Homo sapiens: one gene and its partner. The protein of the gene in region 2 purifies or fractionates together with the protein of the main gene of each other region. This does not show direct contact. Each region holds a gene or a part of one and is shown on either strand. Other genes may lie near its edges.

Region 1 (9,600 bases), on a different chromosome or scaffold from region 2:
TTGATTTTAAGTGCAACTGAAAGATTTGCCAGGGAGTCTAGCAATCTCATTTGTGGTTTTTAAAAAAAATTGCCCTGATGATTTGTGCAGAATGTACTATAGAGGAGCTAGAATTGAGGTAGAAAAAGCAATTAGGAGTCAGCGAATCATAATCTATGGCAGGGATGAAGAGGGAAGAAGATGGTAAATAGTCAAATTTCAGATTTTTTTTTTAAGAGTAGTGAAATGCAGTAGTGAGAAGGGAGGAGTGAGTTAAAACAAGGAGTTTGATGTCTAACTAACCATGAGCAATCAGTTGAGAATAACTCACTGCCTTTCGACCACCCTCAGATTTATTTTGATGTTAGATAGATCAGATGATCTTTCTAATGGATTAGATGTGAACAGTTAGGGAAAGGGACGATTTAAGGGTGTATCCTGGGCTTTTTACCTGAATAACTGGAGAGATGGTGGTACCGTTTACTGAGATACAGAAGCCTTGAGGAAGAACAGGCTCTGTTTGTATGTATGTGTTTTGGGGAAGTGGAAATAAGAAGAGTGTTCAAATAACTGTTTTGGCTACATTAAAGATCAGGTGCCTATTAGAATTTCAAGTGAAGTGTTGAGTAGACAATTGGATATGTGAGTTTAGAACTCAGCGTAGCTGGACCAGAGATTGAGATTTAGAGTTCAACAACATATAAATAGTTTTAAAAACTAGATAAAGGTGAGACCACCCAGGACAGAGGCCTGGACCTTTATATGAATGCCAACTCTATGCCTGGCACTGATTTAAGTGCTTGGCATACATTGGTAAGTAAAATTGATTGACACAAGATTCATGCTTATATTCTAACGGGAAGGCAGTCAGTACGTAATAAATGTAATAATTATAGTGTGTTAGAGGGTGTTAAATGCTACAGAGAGAAGAAAAAATAGAATAGGGTAAGGAACCAGGGCAGGTTGCAGTGTAGACCAAGCTAAACTGCCAACGAGAAAAGTTTTAATTGGTTCTATGATCTGACCCCAAAATAGAATTTAGGTTTTAAAAAGACTTAGAAAAATATTAGATTTAAATTTTTGATTTTTAAAATTTTCTCACTATATTAAATTAAATGAGCTTCATTGCTTGTTGAGTTGGTACCAAATATGGTAGAATGAAACTGATTCATTTTTGAAAAGAACGAAATTTTTTCCATAAATCTGTAAAGCTACACTAGGAACAGAAAAAGCTTGTAAGGTTATTTGATTGTAATAACAATTACAAATGTCTGTATTAAAAGGCTTGATAGTTCTGAAATGGATCACAGTGAAAATGAAGATTACACAATGTCTTCACCTTTGCCGGGGAAAAAAAGTGACAAGAGAGACGACTCTGATCTTGTAAGGGTGAGATATTTGCATTGATTTTATAATAATATTAATGATAATTTTACTTAGTAATGTTTACACTGAAACCAGTTAACATGACTATCAAATTTACATTTTATTTTATTTTATTTTAGTGGTTTTAACCACAAACCTGAGTTTATAATTATCCTCTATGTAATTTAAGTATATAGAATCTGTGCTTCTTATCAATGTGATAAGTAATCTCAATTGTTCAGATTTTTGGTATTAGACTTGCCAGTTGCATACTCAACTGCTTGGTTTTTGTATTGTTTTCCTCATTTGCTTGTGGTTTTGTTGTTGTTGTTGTTTTTGTTAACATAGGATATTTAGACTTAGCCTTAGAGAAGGGGAATGGAATGAGGACCCTTAAAACTTCTTTCATTTAATTTATTTCTTGAGCCTTTTACTAAATAAGCTGCTGTTAAAGGTAGAAAATGCTATAGTTCTCGTCAAGTCCTTGTTCAGTTTTTAAATCTTAATAGAAATGATAAAATGATAACTTGTATGATAGACAGTTTGTGTTGTTTTAAGACAAATTTGTTAAGTTTTAGCATAGACACAAAATACAGTTATGTCTTCTAACACAACTCAATGGACTTAACTGGGTTTGTTTTGACTTTACAGTTCAGCTTCAGATCATTTCCTTAATAACTAATTAGGCTATCAGAATCAATTTTCTTATCTGTATGTAAATTATGGATACTTAGCTGGTAAGCTTTATCAGAGTAAGTGACTTAGCCAAAATGAATTGCTGCTGCTGTTTCATTGTTACGACTTTTGATTATGGTTATCATAATAATAAAAGTTAAAATGTTCGAATCTACGTGATTAAGAGAGGTGAGAGGTTAACCAAGAAATAATTACTTTTACTTTCTCTAAAATATTACTGCCCATCTTCCACGAGTCCAGCATTACACATGCCAAGAAGTTTATTTTCATGTTTCTCCAATAACTTATTTTGGCAGAGTGTTTATTTCCATTTAGAAAGAATTATTCTTTTTTGTTTTGTTTTGTTTTGTTTTTTGAGACACAGTCTCACTTTGTCGCCCAGGCTGGAGTGCAGTGGCACGATCTGGGCTCACTGCAACCTCCGCTTCCCGGGTTCAGGTGATTCTCTTGCATCACCCTCCTGGGTAACTGGGACCACAGGCATGTGCCAGCATGCGTAGCCAATTTTTGTATTTTTTAAAGGCGGGGTTTCACCATGTTGGCCAGGCTGGTCTCAAACGCCTGATGTCAGGTGATCTGCCTGCCTTGGCCTCCCAAAGTGCTGGGATTACAGGCTTGAGCCATACTGCCCGCTGTGAAAGAATTATTCTAAAATTTTATTGAATTCTAACTATGTATACTGTAAGTTACGATGTTTATTGGCTGTTTAAAATTTTCACATGAGCAAAATTAAGAATTGATCACTTAGCTTGGAAACAATCTTGTTATCTGGATTTACAGAAGAAAATCCTTGAATTGGAAAAGGTATTATGTCTTCTTAGTTCTCACTTACTGCAGAAATTCCTTTATTATTAATGAGAGCTGGTCACCACGTTGAAAATGCTTTAAGCAGAGAGCTCATGATGTATTTCATTTGTTGGAAAAGTCAACTAGGTCACTCATACCCACACCTATAGTGTACTACACTTATACCTTGGTGTTCCCATCCCCCAAAAGTTGGGAAACATGGTTTTTATTAATTCTTAATATTCTGTTATCCTATAAATTTTGCATCTGCTTTTACCTTTTGGGATAGTACAGAACAAAGTCTACTCTATTTTTCATAGAACTGTTTTGAATTTTTGAGCTCTTGAGACCTATTAGTATGATTGTAATGGAGGCCTTTTGCTATTTGTTGTGGCATGGATAATGTGTAACGTTAGGTCCAGTTTTAGAGGTGCTAGAAGAATCTTATTAATAAGCTAGTTTTGACTGAAGTGCCCTCAGAGAGATGAGTATTATGAGACACAAGTTGAATTTAAAGACCAGTAGATTATAATGAAAGAGCACGGTCTCATTTGCTTGTTACCAGCTTCTCATTGAAATTTCACAGCAAAGGAATTATTTTCCATATACGTTTGTATTTAAATATTTAGCTTTATAAATAAAATATTTTCCTGTCTTTTGCTTCTAACCTCGGTTTTATACTCCCTCTGTTCTTAAAACAGTGCAATGCAAAATGAAAAAGAAATAAGTAGTGGTGCTTTAGGAAACTAGATTAGTATTCTCAAGAAAGTAGACATTGGGTTTTCTTTTTACCACCAACCTTTTCCAGAGCTTAAAGGAAATCATCTACCTTTTTAGATCTTTGGACATCAAAAAGAATTATAGTAATTAAAATAAGAAGTGACATTTTAAATTTAGTTCTAATTTAACATTTCTTTTACCTTCTTATCTTTGAGTAAAAACAGTTAATTTTTAATTTGTGCACAAAACTCTAAATAAATAAAACAAACTAAATCCAGTCATGTATAGATCTTCCCCTCTCCTTAGAATGTAAGGATAGCTTAATGTTACCAAATCTTTTACTATGATAGTATATTAAATAAACCAAAGGGAAAACCAAAAACAAAATAATTTCAGATCATGCCAAGAGGACATAAATAAAACTTAAGATCCGTTCTTGACAAATAGGAACTTTTAGTAAACTAGTACCAGAAGGATACATCTTTAATGTGCTAAAAGTTTTGTCTATTTTAAATCAGTAGTCAATGCCATTCTTCCTAAAGGCAAAATACTTGAAGCATTCTTTTTAAAAATCAGGAACAAAACAAGCAACCTGCTGTCACCACTGTTTTTAAAAATTGCTCTAGAATGTTTGACCAATTGTTATTTTTGTAATCTTAGAAAAATAAAAGAAGCAATTGAAAATCTATCCCTACCTATGTATATATTTATGTTTGTAACTAACATTACTCTGATAATTTTGGTTTGTATCAGATGTACATTTAGGGGAAAAGGGATTATTTTCTTCATCACAAGAACCAGTGCAACAACAAACATAGATTGACTGATTGACAGATTCATAGATTTAAATATAACCTTTAAAAGAAATAGGGAGTACCTATATGTAGAAAATCTCAAAACTGAGATAGGGAGGACCTATATGTAGAAAATCTCAAAACTGGAAGACTTGAAGAGAGAGAAGACAGGCCATGTTCTTGTATAGGAGAAAGGAATAAAAAAGGATGAAAGTTTTTTTCAACTGAATATATAATTGCAAAATTCCAGCATGGTTTTGTTTCAAGTCTATGTGGAGGAATAAATAAATATAAAAGGAGGAGAAATAAAGGTAGGTTCAGCCCTACCAGATACATAATTATACTTAGTAAAATATTGTGCTTCTGTTATGATAGCCCAGAAATATTATTCTTGTTCAAAACATATAAAATAAAGGAAGCACTACAAATCATTGATTCTGAAATGGTTGGATGTGTCTTTGGGAGTGGAAAATCCAGTTTAGAATCTCATCTCACATTCTGTTCTAAAACAATACACAATAATGTCTTAGTCAGCTCAAGCTGCCATTATAAAATACCAAATACCACAGACTGGGTAGCTTAAACAACAGAACTATATTTTCTTACAGTTCTGGAGGCTGGAAGTACAAGATCAAGGTGCCAGCAGATTTGGTTCCTGATGAGGGCTGTCTTCCTGGGTTACAGATGCCACCTTCTCCTGTGTCCTCACATGAGAGGTGTGGGGTGGGAGGAAGAAGAAAGGCACCCAAGCTCACTGATGTTTCCTCTTATAAGGACACTAATCTCATCATGAGGGTGCCACCTCATGACCTCATCTCAACGAAATACCTCCCAAAGGCCCCATCTCCAAATACTGTCACATTGGGATTAGAGCTTGAACATACAATTTTTTTCTTTGGTGGTGGGGGCCACAATTCAGTCCAAAGCAAGTAAGAAATAACACTTAAAGGACAGGTGCAATGACACCTGTAATCCCAGCACTTTGGGAGGCCGAGGCAGGCGGATCACCTGAGTTTAGGAGTTTGAAACCAGCCTGGCCAACACGGCAAAACCCCATCTCTGCTAAAAATACAAAAATTAGCCACGCATGGTGGCACATGCCTCTAGTCCCAGCTACTCGGGAGGCTGAGGCAAGAGAATCGCTTGAACCCGGGAGGCAGAGGTTGCAGTGAGCCAAGATTGACCCACTGCACTCCAGCCTGGGTGACAGAGCGAGACTCTGTCTCAAAAAAAAAAAAAAGAAAAAAAAAAAAAGCTGGGTGCAGTGGCTCATGCCTGTAATCCCAGCACTTTGGGAGGCCGAGGCGGGCGGATCACAAGGTCAGGAGATTGAGACCATCCTGGCTAACACGGTGAAACCCCGTCTCTACTAAAAAAATACAAAAAAAAAAAAAAAAAAAAAAATTAGCCAGGCGTGGTTGCAGACACCTGTAGTCCCAGCTACTCGGGAGAAGGCTGAGACAGGAGAATGGCGTGAACCTGGGAGGCGGAGCTTGCAGTGAGCAGAGATGGTGCCACTGCACTCCAGCCTGGGTGACAGAGTGAGACTCCATCTCAAAAATAATAAAAGATAATATTAATAATAAAGAAATAACACTTAAAAATAAGCATAGAGGCATACACAAAAGCATAGAGGAATATAGAGAAAACCCACTAACACCGCAGTAGTCAAAGTTGACAAAGGACACAATACGAAGGATGTAATTAGGCAGTTCACATACAGGAAGCTCAATTTAAAGTTAGAAAAAGTTACAGATAATTCGATAGTTTTTGTTGTTTTCAGTGATTTTTGAAAATATAAATTGCGCAGACTTTTGGAAATTAACTTTGTATTATAAGTGTTCATACATACAATTTATTCTTGGGTCTTTGGAGAATTTCTTCAGCCTTCACGCTGGTTCACATATAGATTCTCTGAATATAGACTAGGATTTTATTTTAAATGTGAAAGCCACTGGTTTTTTGTTGTTTCTGTTGTTAATCAGTTAGTTATACCTAGAAAGAAGCAGTATTTCTAATTCAGAAGTGTTTCCAAAATTTATAATAAATGATGAATATGTTTACCTTTTGTATCTTGCAACCTCCATTTGTAAAATAATAGTTCTTTTATGATGTTGTAAGCATGTCATATAGTTAATATTTTATGTCTTACGCACTATGTGGTAAAATTAGAATTACTTAAATTGACTATCCAAACAGATACTTTAGTATAGTTGTCATTTAGGACCAAGCACTGAATTTATAATGCTCTTTTTAATGAGATAGCTCTTCACTAAAATTTATAATTTAGTAAGATACTGATCTTGAGAGGTTTCCTTTTAAGACACTCTAGCTGAAAAGTAAGAGTGCAAATGTACCCTTTTATCCCAGATAAGTTTTTAAAATTAAAAACTATAATAAAAGCAAATAAATACAGTTCTGGTGTATTTAAGAGCTGTATATTTTAGGTACATATCTAGGACAACATTAGATAACAGATTTTTTTGTTTCATTCCTCAAAATATGTATACTCACAATTTCATAACCATAAATTGTGATTTTTTTTTTCCCCTAGTCTGAATTGGAGAAGCCTAGAGGCAGGAAAAAAACGCCCGTCACAGAACAGGAGGAGAAATTAGGTATGGATGACTTGACTAAGTTGGTACAGGAACAGAAACCTAAAGGCAGTCAGCGAAGTCGGAAAAGAGGCCATACGGCTTCAGAATCTGATGAACAGCAGTGGCCTGAGGAAAAGAGGCTCAAAGAAGATATATTAGAAAATGAAGATGAACAGAATAGTCCGCCAAAAAAGGGTAAAAGAGGCCGACCACCAAAACCTCTTGGTGGAGGTACACCAAAAGAAGAGCCAACAATGAAAACTTCTAAAAAAGGAAGCAAAAAAAAATCTGGACCTCCAGCACCAGAGGAGGAGGAAGAAGAAGAAAGACAAAGTGGAAATACGGAACAGAAGTCCAAAAGCAAACAGCACCGAGTGTCAAGGAGAGCACAGCAGAGGTAAGCATGTGTAACTCTAAACTGCATCTGTTTCGTTACTATATTATAAATCATAATTTGATGCTATCCACATTTGGGTCTTCCCCAAAGCAGAGCAGAATCTCCTGAATCTAGTGCAATTGAATCCACACAGTCCACACCACAGAAAGGACGAGGAAGACCATCAAAAACGCCATCACCATCACAACCAAAAAAAAATGTGTAAGTTGTAAATATTACATTTCAAACCAATTTCAAATTATTTTGCAAAAGTTCCTAAATTTGTAAACATACATATTGCTGTATTTAAATTCCATATATTTAGCCCCATTACACTAGGTAAGATAAAATTTTTATAAACTTACCTTAGTGATTGATATCTCAATAAACTATCTTGTACATTTTTACAGGTGCAGGCAAATCTTCATAAATGAATACCAAATAGTATATTATTTCCTATACAGACTTTATGATATCTAAAGAAATCATAAGGTATTTTTAAATAATCACCACACATTGACCAGGTTGCCTTGTCATTCCACACTACAATTTTTTTTTTAAATGTTTCTCATTAGCACCTTTTCCTTTAAAAAAAGGAAAATAGGTCTTATGCTTCTGCTTTTATTCTTTGAACTTGTAGTAGGAAAGTAACAGGTACCATTTTTTAAAAATTATATCCATAGAAATTAACACATGTTGGTCTCAAGTGTTTGATATCTTGATTTTGTTTGTTTTCTAACCCAGTTCATTTATCTACATCAACATGTATATAGTTTTAGATGTTCACACAAACACATTTATAAGAGAGGTACAGTAAGAATCTGTACCTCAAATTTTAGTGTCACCAGAGTATCACTGCTGTAATTTGCAGATCTGACAGTGTTTTTTCTCCTTAGTTATGTGAGTGGAAATAGAGTAGCATGTCTTCTATTAGTCAGAAATTTAACACTTTTTCTGAGAGTAATCCCACCCATACATAATTACATCATGGCTCGACTTTTCAGAGTTGCCAATGTACTGTCATTAAATACTCAATTATCTTAGAGATTTTCCTATTCCTGTGTATTCCACAGGAAGAGGAAAAGTTGCCTGGGTGTCTAGCCAGTACTTCATGCCATCTTCCATGTAATTTTTCTATCAGGTTAAAAGTAAAGGTAAGTACATTTTTGTGGCAGCTTTATAAATGTGTTTGGATTCAACCAAATCACTATTTCTAAACAAAGGATTCTTAAGGAATCCTTTATTTAATAAAATACACATGAATGATGTAACAAGGAAATAACAAACCTCATAATTTTAGTTTGTTTATATTTGGACATCATAAAATTCAGGGTTTAAATGATTATTGTGCTCTCCTAAAATTACACAAGTCCTATGAATGTTCTAAACCAAACAAGTATTTCTTAAAAAAAAAAAAAAATTGATATGGAAGAAGATTCTGTAGTCTGTCTTGGAAGCCTATCTTCCTTTCACTGGGAAGCTCTTTCTAGAGCTAGTATACTAACATATGTTAGGATTTGTTTCTTTTTCTTGTTCTGACCTCAGTGAAATTGAAAAAGATTGTCATTATGTTTCATGTTATTTCTATAGTTTCATTAATCTCGAAAAACCAAACCAAGTAAAAAAATTGTTTGGTTCGAGCGTGAGTTAAAAAAATACATATTTTGGATTGCTTATAGAAGTGATGTTATGTTTCTAATTTTAAAAAATAAAGATTTATCAAGAGGGATCCATTTGATTAGATGGTTCTATTACATATTTTTTGATGCCTCCTGTGTTTCAGAGAGTACTAGGTGCTAGGGACACAAAACAGACGTGGTACTTGTTTTCATGGGCTCGTGGTTCTTGTTTTCCACCATCTAATGGAGTGAGGAAGTTTTTTCTTTAAAAGTAACAATGAGTTGATATCTTGAGAATAGTAGGGGCTAGACAGGCAGAGAACAGGTGGCATGAACACTATATTTGAAGTTTCTGAAGTGAAAAATAACTTGGCAAAATCAGAAAGCTAAAGGAAGGCAAGGGTTTGTTGGATTGTAGTTGTGGGGAGTTGGGGAGCAGAAAGAGATGAGAGTGGACAGGTAGGCAAGGACCATCTACTGTTCCTTGTATACTTTGTTAAGGAGGTTTACAAAATTATTCTCAGCTCAGTAGGGAGCAGTAACATCATCTGTTCTTGTACTTTTAAAAGATAACTTTGTAAAGAGAAGAGGCAAGAGATGGGAATGGTTTGAATTAGGTGGTAGCAATGGAGATGTGGAGAGAAGTGAATGGATTTGAGATCTCCATA
Region 2 (9,600 bases):
GAGGCGGAAGGATCACCTGAGGTCAGCTAAAGACCAGCCTGAGCAACCTAGTGAGGCCTTATCTCTACAAAAAAAAATGGTAAAAATCAGCCCATCAAGGTGGTGTCATGCCCATAGTCTTGGCTACTTGAGAGGCTGAGGCAGGAGGATCACTTGAGCCCAGAAATTTGAGGCTGCAGTGAGTCATGATTGCGCCACTGTACTCCAGCCTGGGTAACAGAGTGACACCCAGCCTTTTTATTTGTGGATAGCTCAAAGAAGTCATTTACAAAATGCCTTTTGTTTTCAAAGCACAGCTTTTCATAAAAAGCAAGGCTCACATTTAATAGATGCTCTGGTACATAGGTGTGTGTTGAGAGCCGCTGGGGACTCAGGAAGCCCAGCAGCCCCGGGATCCGCCGGTGGTCAGAACTCATCATCAGAATCGTCATGGGCCCCCCTGCAGACCTTGAAGGTCCGGGGGGTGGTCAGCTGTCCTGGGGAGGCCGGGGCCAGGTTCACCCAGCCGGGCCCGCGGGGCAGCAGGTGGCTTTCATTGAGTCTGATGACGCGGTAGTTCTCATAGTGGATGTTGTGGGTTATGTCCTTCAGGTCTTGGAGGTGGGAGCTGGGGGACCGGAGACGGTCAGCCCCGATGGTGGTGTCCCCAGGGCCCCTCGCCAGCCCCCTAGCCCCAGGCTCCCCACACCCTCACCGGATAAGCAGGTCTCTCAGGAGAGGAAATTCACAGTGCGCCATGTTCTCCACTGCAAGACATGGGACTCAGTATGGGCGCTGCTTAGTGAGCACTGAGTAAGTGCCTACTGTATGCACCACCTGACACCATTTCCCTTAGCCCTTTTCCCACATTTCTCTTTACCCTATCCTGCCTTCCCTTTGTTGGTTCATTCATTCATTCACCCACTGTTGTGTTCCCAGTGCCTGGTACAGGCGGCTCCTACAAATAGCTGTAGAATGAATGAATCCACCAATCATTATTGTATTATATGTACACTCGGCCTCTGTATCCATGGGTGCCCACTGTAGGACTTGAGCATCTGCCGATTTTGGTATCCCTGGGGGTCCTGGAACCACCCTCTGCGGATAGCATGGGTGCTATATCATAGGCAATAGTATAGTATATTTCTGGCTGGGCGCGGTGGCTCACGCCTATAATCCCAGCAGTTTGGGAGGCTGAGTTGGGTGGATCACCTGAGGTCAGGAGTTTGAGACCAGCCTGGACGACATAGTGAAGCCCCGTCTCTACTAAAAATACAAAAATTAGCCGGGTGTGGTGGTATAATCTGTAGTCCCAGCTATTTGGGAGGCTGAGGCAGGAGAATCGCTTGAACCTGAGAGGCGGAAGTTGCAGTGAGCCAAGATCGCTCCACTGCACTCCAGCCTGAGTGACAAAGCAAGACTCTGTCTCAAAAAAATATATATATATAGTATAGAATATTTCTAATAATTATAATAATACATCACCTGACCGGGCGCGGTGGCACACGCCTGTAATCCCAGCACTTTGGGAGGCCGAGGCGGGCAGATCACGAGGTCAGGAGTTTGAGACCAGCCTGGCAACATAGTGAAACCCCGTCTCTCATAAACATACAAAAAATTAGCTGGGCGTGGTGGCAGGTGCCTGTAATCCCAGCTCTTTGGGAGGCTGAGACAGGAGAATCACTTGAACCCAGGAGGCGGAGGTTGCAGTGAGCCGAGATCACGCCACCGCACTCCAGCTCGGGTGACACTGCGAGACTCCATCTCAAAAAAATAAAAATAAAAAATAATAATAATACATCAGGGGCTACATCCTCGCTGCCCCTCCTGTGTCACTTTCCCTAGCTCCCTAAGGCAGTCTCCTCTCCCTCCCGCCACAATCGCCTTCACTGTGCCTCCCCGACCTGTCCTTGTCCTGTCAGCTCTATGGGGACAGGGACCCTGTCAGTCCTCCCTTTACCGTGCACTGCAGTAACTGCACATAGCGGTGCCTGATACACAGTAGGCCCATCGTAATTTCCGGCCAGCCACTAGGGCAGCCTTGGGTATTGGGCATTGTGCAAAATGGTGGTTCTCCCCGCTCCAACACCCTAGGAAGTTGATGCACTGTGATGCCCACTTTACTGTGAGGAAACTGAGGCCCAGAGGGTCCGGAAACTTGCCACAGCCTCCCAGCTGGAAAGAGGGACCATTCCCCAGGGCTCTTTGTCTAGTGGGCTTCACCTTTCTGTGCCCTGTGATGGGTGCGAAGGTTGCCCAAGGCTGCTCTGGTTTCCAAACTGACCCCACCTGCATCCTACCCAGGGGCCCCGCACTGACCTTCAATGATGCCCCACTTGGTCTTCCGGCCCAGGACACACCTCCCGTTCACCAGGTGCTCTTGGTCAGCCCCTACCACGGCAAAAGGGATTCGGTCCTGGGAAAGGAGAAGACACAGAGATGGGAGGATTGACTTCGCTGGGGAGAAGAGAAGAAAAGTCAAGGCACCCAGGCAGGAGAGGGGAGTCCTATCCTTTTCGAGGAGGGAACATGGTAGAAAGTGCACAGAATTCCCAAGTTCAAAGACATAAAGTCTAATTGGTGCCTCTGGCTGAGTGAGGTAGCTCTTGCCTGTAATTTCAGCACTTTAGGAGGCCGAGGTGGGAGGATCACTTGAGCCCTAGGAGTTTGAGACCAGCCTGGGCAACATGGTGAAAGGCCATCTCTGCAAAAACTAAAAAATTAGCTGAGCTTATAATCCCATTATATTATATAGCGTATTATATAGCTCACACCTATAATCCCATAGCTCACTGCAGCCTTGACCTCCTGGGCTCAAGTGATATCCCCGCCTCAGTCCCCTGAGGAGTGAGGACCATAGGTGTGCACCACCATGCCTGGCTACTTTTTAAACATTTTTAGTAGAGATGAGTTCTCTGTGTTGCCCAGGCTGGTCTCTAACTCCTGGGCTCAAGTGATCCTCCCGCCTCTGCCTTCCAAAGTGGTGGGATTATAGGAGTGAGCTACCACACCCAGCCTGCCTGTCTTCCTATATATAAAGTTTTATTGGCACATAGTTGAGCCTATGAGTCATTTTTGTCTATGGCTGCTCTTGAACCATGACATCAGAGTTGAATCATCACAACAGAGACCCTACGGCCCAGAAAGTCTAAAACATTTACTACCTGGCCCTTTGCAGAAAAGGTTGTTGAACCCTACCGTAAACTCCAGTTGTTTACTTGCTCATGGCCAGAAGCAGAAATTCAAACTTGCAAACTCCGAAGTGACATATATGGGTTTTTACTTCTGAATTCATCTGTGATGGGGAGTAATGTGGATGTTGATAATATTGGGCGTGGTGGCTCACACCTGTAATCCTAGCATTTTGGGAGGTGAAGGCAGGCAGATCACCTGAGGTCAGGACTTCAAGACCAGCCTGGTCAACATGGTGAAACCCTGTCTCTAGGAAAAATAAAAAATTAGCTGGGTGTGGTGGCGCATGCCTGTAATCCCAGCTACTCAGGAGGCTGAGGTGGGAGAATCACCTGAACCCAGGAGGTTGGAGGTTGCTGTGAACGGAGATCCTGCCACTGCACCCCAGCCTGGGCCACAGAACAAGACCCTGTCTCTGCTGGGCACGGTGGCTCACGCCTATAATCCCAGCACTTTGGGAGGCTGAGATGGGTGGATCACAAGGTCAGGAGATCGAGATCACCCTGGCTGAAATAGTGAAACCCCATCTCTACCAAAAAGACAATAATTAGCCAGGCGTGGTATTGTGCACCTATAGTCCCAGCTACTCAGGAGGCTGAGGCAGGAGAATCGCTTGAACCCAGGAGGCAGGGGTTGCAGTGAGCGGAGATCACGCCACTATACTCCAGCTTGGGTGACAGAGGGAGACTCCATCTAAAAAAAAAAAAAAGACCCTATCTCATAAAAAAAACAACATTAAAAACAAAACAAACAAAACATTGTACGGTACGGGGGTTTTTAGTATTTGACCAGGGTTATGCAACCATCATCGCAATCTAATTTCACAACGTTTTCATCACGTCCCCCCAAAAAAACCCCATACCTTTTAGCAATCACTCCCCATTTCTCCCTTCCCCACAGCCCCTGACTACCACCAATCTACTTTCTGTCTCTATAGATTTGCCTATGCCTATTTGGGACATTTCATATAAATGGAATCCCATAATACGTGACCTTTTGTGTCTGACTGATTTTTGTCTGAGAAACATGTTTACAAGGTTCCCCCACGCTGTAGCAGGCAGGTGACAGGGTGACAGTGCTTCATTTTTTTTTTTTTTTTTGAGACAGGGTCTCACTCCCTTGCCCAGGCTGGGGTGCAACGGTGTGATCTCAGCTCACTGCAATCTCCATCTCCTGGGTTCAAGTGATTCTCCTGCCTCAGCCTCCTAAGTAGCTGGGATTACAGGCATGCACCACCACACCCGGCTAATTTTGTATTTTTAGGAGAGACGGGATTTCTCCATGTCGGTCAGGCTGGTCTCGAACTCCCGACCTCAGGTAATCTGCCCACCTCAGCCGCCCAAAGTGCTGGGATTACAGGTGTGAGCCACCGTGCCCGGCCTTTTTTTTTTTTTTTTTTTTTTTTTGAGACAGGGTCTCACTCCCTTGCCCAGGCTGGAGTGCAGTGTCACAATCTCTGCTCACTGCAACCTTCACCTTCCAGGTTCAAGCAATTCTCCTGCCTCAGTCTCCCCAGTAGCTGGGATTACAGGTGCGTGCCACCACACGCAGCTAATTTTGTATTTTTAGTAGAGACAGAGTTTCACCATGTTAGCCAGGCTGGTCTCGAACCCCTGGCCGCAAGTGATCTGCCCACCTCAGCTTCCCAAAGTGCTGGGATTACAGGCATGAGCCACTGAGCCCAGCCTTGAACTGTACACTTTTAAAGGGTGAACTTCATTGCTTTTCATGGTTAAGGGATAGTCCATGGTAGGGAATAGGCCGCACTGTGTTTCCCCACTCATCTGTTGATGCATATTTGGGTTGCTTCCACTTTCGGGGCTAAAATAAATAATGCTGCTGTGAACATTCACGTACACATTTTTCTGTGAATGTACATTTTTGTTTCTTTTGGGTATACACGTAGGAGTTCAGTTGCTGGGTCATAGAGTAACTGCATGTTTAAGCATTTGAGGAACCACCAGACTGTTTTCCAAAGTGGCTGAGCCATTTTACTTTCCCTCCAGCAGTAGGTGAGGGTTTCAGTTCCTCCACATCTTCCACAGCACTTTTTTTTTTAAGCTGGAGTTTTGCTCTTGTTGCCCAGGCTGGGGTGCAGTGGCGCAATCTCGGCTCACCGTAACCTCCACCTCCAAGATTCAACCGATTCTCCTGCCTCAGCCTCCTGAGTAGCTGGGCTTACAGGCACCCACCACCACGCCCAGCTGATTTCTTGTATTTTTAGTAGAGACGGGGTTTCGTCATGTTGGCCAGGCTGGTCTCGAACTCCTGACCTCAGGTGATCCACCCACCTCGGCCTCCCAAAGTGCAGGGATTACAGGGCTGAGCCACTGCGCCCGGCCAACACATTTTTTTTTTCTGAGATGGAGTTTCACTCTTCTTGCCCAGGCTGGAGTGCAATGGCGCCATCTCAGCTCACTCACTGCAACCTCTGCCTCCCAGTTTCAAAATTCTCCCGCTTCAGCCTCCTGAGTAGCTGGGACTAAAGGCGTGCACCACCACACCCAGCCAATTTTTTGCATTTTTGGCAGAGACAAGGTTTCACCATGTTGGCCAGGCTGGTCTCCAACTCCTGACCTCAAGCGATCTGCCTGCCTCGGCCTCCCAAACTGCTGGGATTACAGGCGTGAGCCACTGTGCCCGGCCCAATGTTCTCTATATATTCAGGATACAAGCCCCTTATTGGGTATGTGATTCGCAGACATTTTCTCCGATTCTGTGGGTTGTTAGTGTGAGCTGTTATTTCTTGCTCACCTTGAGCTTGTGGATGAGTAGAGAATCATATCTGCTAGGAATATGTGCACATTTCCCTGAGATGTAGAGAAAGATGAGTCTTTGGATGGAAAGGATGTGTGGGAAGGAAATCACCTCGCCCGCCTCCCGCCCCACAGCCTCTCACCCGTAACTTGCTGTTGAGGATTTTGTCATTGATGTCCTCGTCAAAGCACATCTGGGGGTAGACGTCGATGCAGTGGGTCCTCAGGTTCTGCTGGATCTGGAGATCCCACACAGGTGACCTCAGCCCACCCTGCCCACTCTGCCCTCTGCCCCCGCTGACCCCAGCCCTGCCCGGGCATCCAGATCACCCTGCGCCTGAAGGCCTCTCGCTCCTCCATGGTCAGGCTGTCGGCCCTGGCAATCACGGGCACCACATTCACAGTCCGGCACAGCCGCTGCAGGAACTCAATGTCCAGGGGCCGCAGGCTGCCGGAGGCAGGGCAGTGATGGGGGTGGCGGTGGTGGTGAGTGTATAAACGACAGCAGCAGGGCACGGGGGTGGGGGCAGCCGGCAGCCCATGGTGGGGACCCCTTCTCCTCCTCCCTGCCCCGTGCAGGTGGTCCTCGCCTTGCAGGTGCAGCCCCCTCACCAGTGCCCAGTGGGTGGTACAAAGTACACGCAGCAGTGCACCCGGGTGTCTGGGATGTGGCGCTGGCGGGTGATGAGGATCTCCTCCTGCAGGTACTGCTCGTATTGCTCGTTGATGTAGCCCAGGATGGGGTCCCAGCTGAGGCGGGAGGTGGACCCTCCCCTCAGAACTGTGCTGTGCCCAGAGAGCCCCACCCCTCTCCTCTGTGTCCTCTGGGCGGTCCTCCCTTGGGACGACGAATCGTCCCGGTTGGCCCGGGACCTGTGGGTCACCCCGGTACTTTCCCCCACTTCCCTGCATCATCAGAGACACACAGGGAGACCTCCTGCCATTCTCGGCTTCACTGTCTGTAAAATGGAGACAATAGTAGCACCTACGTTGCAAGTAAGGGAGGGGTGAGCATTAACTGTATTAAAGGGCCACAGCTGGGCCCAAACCACCAAGGAATCGCGCCTGATGGTTGCAGGGGTCTCCCTCCTCCTCTTCGAGTCCCTTCCCCTCTTGGGTATTGTCAACACTGTAAGTAGCCAAACAGATCCTTTTAAAAACAGGTGTCAGGCCAGGCCCGATGGCTCATGCCTGTAATCCCAGCACTTTGGGAGGCGGAGGCAGGAGGATCGCTCGAGCCCAGGAATTCGAGGCTAGCCTGGGCAACATGGGGAAACGCCAACTCTACAAAAAATACACAAATTAGCTCGGTGGGGTGGCACGTGCCTGTGGTCACAGCTACTCAGGAGGCTGAGGCAGGAGGGTCCTTGAGCTTGGGGAGGTCAAGGCTGCAGTGAGCCATGATCTCGCCACTGCACTCCAGCCTGGGAAACAGACTGAGACACTGTCTCTAAATAAATAAATAAATAAATAAATAAATAAATAAATAAATAAATAAAATGAAACCAGGGCCAGGTGCGGTGGCTTATGCGTGTAATCCCAGTGCTTTGGGAGGCTGAAGCAAGTGGATCACCTGAGGTCAGTAGTTCGAGACCAGCCTGGCCAACATGGGGAAATCCCCGTCTCTACTAAAAATACAAAAATTGGGCCGGGTGCAGTGGCTCACACCTGTAATCCCAGCACTTTGGGAGACTGAGGTGGGCGGACCACCCGAGGTCAGGAGTTTGAGACCAGCCTGGCCAACGTGGTGAAACCCCGTCTCTACTAAATAAATTCAAAAAAGTAGCCGAGCGTGTTGGCGGATGTCTGTAATCCCAGCTACTTGGGAGGCTGAGGCAGGAGAATTGCTTGAACCCCGGGAGGCGGAGGTTGCAGTGAGCAGAGATTGTGCCACTGCACTCTGGCCTGGGTGACAAGAGCGAGTCTGTCTTAAAAAAAAAAAAAATTAGCCGGAAATTGCTTGAACCCAGGAGGCAGAGGTTGCAGTGAGCCGAGATTGTGTCACTGCACTCTGGCCTGGGCGACAAGAGCTAGATTCTGTCTCAAAAAAAAAAAAGATCACACAGCCTGGCTGTTCCAGGTCTGGGGTGTTTCCCAAAGGTTGAAGGGGGAGGGGCACGGACAGGAGGGGACAGCCATGGCTTGGCCCCCACCTTTGAGAACCCACCACTTGTTGCGGGCACAGTGGCTCATGCCTGTAATCCCAGCACTTTGGGAGGCCGAGGCGGGTGGATCATCTGAGGTCAGGAGTTCAAGACCAGCCTGGCCAACATGGTGAAACCCCATCTCAACTAAAAATACAAAAAAAATTAGCTGGGCGTGGTGGCGGGCGCCTGTAATCCCAGCTACTTCGGGAGGCTGAGGCAGGAGAATCACTTGAACCTGGGAGGTGGAGGTTGCAGTGAGCCGAGATCATGCCATTGCACTCCAGCCTGGGTGACAAGAGTGAAACTCTGCCTAAAAAAAAAAAAAAAGAGAGAGAACCTACCAGTTGTCATTGTTGATCTGGTCCCCGAAGCCGGGCGTGTCCGTCACCGTCAGCTTCAGCTTCACACCCTTCTCCTCTATGACTGTGGAGGGAGAGCAGAGTCGGGAGAGACTGGACCCAGGTGGGATGGGGTGGGGCAGGGTGGGGTGAGGTGTGGGCAGGGGCTCACTCACCATGGGTCAGTGAATGCAGCTGCAGCGTCTGGGGTGTGGGCACCCCCAAGCCCGGTGGGTTTGACTTCCACACTTTGGACTTGAACAGCGTGTTCACCATCGTGGACTTGCCCAGCCCGCTTTGCCCTGGGAGTGGCAACCGGATGACAGCAGTTAGGGTGGGCGTTTTAGGCAGTTTTTCTCTAACTCTTTACTTTTCTATTTTATTTTTGGAGACAGGTTCTCACTCTGTCACCCAGGCTGGAGTGCAATGATGCAATCCCCGTTCACTGCAGCCTCGACCTTCCCAGACTCTAGTGATTCTCGCACCTCGGCCTCCCTAGTAGCTGGGACTGTAGGCACACGCCACCATACCCAGCTGATTTTTGCACTGCTTTTTTTTTTTTTTTTTTTGAGACGCAGTCTCGCTCTGTCACCCAGGCTGGAGCGCGATGGTGGGATCTCGGTTCACTGCAAGCTCCGCCTCCCAGATTCACGCCATTCCCCTGTCTCAGCCTCCCAAGTAGCTGGGACTACAGGCGCCCGCCACCACGCCTGGCTAATTTTTTTGTATTTTTAGTAGAGACGGGGTTTCACCATGTTAGCCAGGATGGTCTTGATTTCCTGACCTCATGATCCGCCTGCCTCAGCCTCCCAAAGTGCTGGGATTACAGGCGTGAGCCACCACACCCGGCCTTGCACTGTTTTTTAATTTTTAAGACAGGGTCTCAATCTGTCACCCAGACTCAAGTGATCGCAGCTCACTGCAACCTCCACCCTCAGGTTCAAACGATCCTCCCACCTCAGCCCCCCAAGTAGCTGGGATTCAGGTGCATGTCACCATGCCTGGCTAATTTTTAAATTTTTTTTGTAGAGATGGGGTCTTGCTGTGTTGCCTAGGCTGGTCATGAACTCCTGGCCTCCAGGGATCCTTCTGCTTCAGTCTTGCTCTGTCACCCAGGCTGGAGTACAGTGGCGCAATCTCGGCTCACTACAACATCTGCCTCCCAGGTTCAAGCAATTCTCCTGCCTT

The links.
Region 1: the proteins of SEPTIN12 (region 2) and PDS5B purify together in Homo sapiens (affinity purification with mass spectrometry; 3 studies listed by BioGRID and IntAct, with this or other methods). This does not show direct contact.

Annotation. Positions count from the first base shown.
Region 1 is NC_000013.11:32,763,227-32,772,826, forward strand, and holds part of PDS5B (sister chromatid cohesion protein PDS5 homolog B), read left to right. Parts: intron 1-1,262; coding exon 1,263-1,368; intron 1,369-6,894; coding exon 6,895-7,334; intron 7,335-7,424; coding exon of another isoform or gene 7,425-7,427; coding exon 7,428-7,535; intron 7,536-9,600. UniProt on the Homo sapiens protein: Regulator of sister chromatid cohesion in mitosis which may stabilize cohesin complex association with chromatin. May couple sister chromatid cohesion during mitosis to DNA replication.
Region 2 is NC_000016.10:4,777,392-4,786,991, forward strand, and holds the end of SEPTIN12 (septin-12), read right to left. Parts: intron 8,715-9,600; coding exon 8,589-8,714; intron 8,498-8,588; coding exon 8,416-8,497; intron 6,678-8,415; coding exon 6,540-6,677; intron 6,376-6,539; coding exon 6,258-6,375; intron 6,167-6,257; coding exon 6,071-6,166; intron 2,396-6,070; coding exon 2,299-2,395; intron 747-2,298; coding exon 695-746; intron 608-694; coding exon 406-607; 3' UTR 215-405; downstream 1-214. UniProt on the Homo sapiens protein: Filament-forming cytoskeletal GTPase. Involved in spermatogenesis. Involved in the morphogenesis of sperm heads and the elongation of sperm tails probably implicating the association with alpha- and beta-tubulins.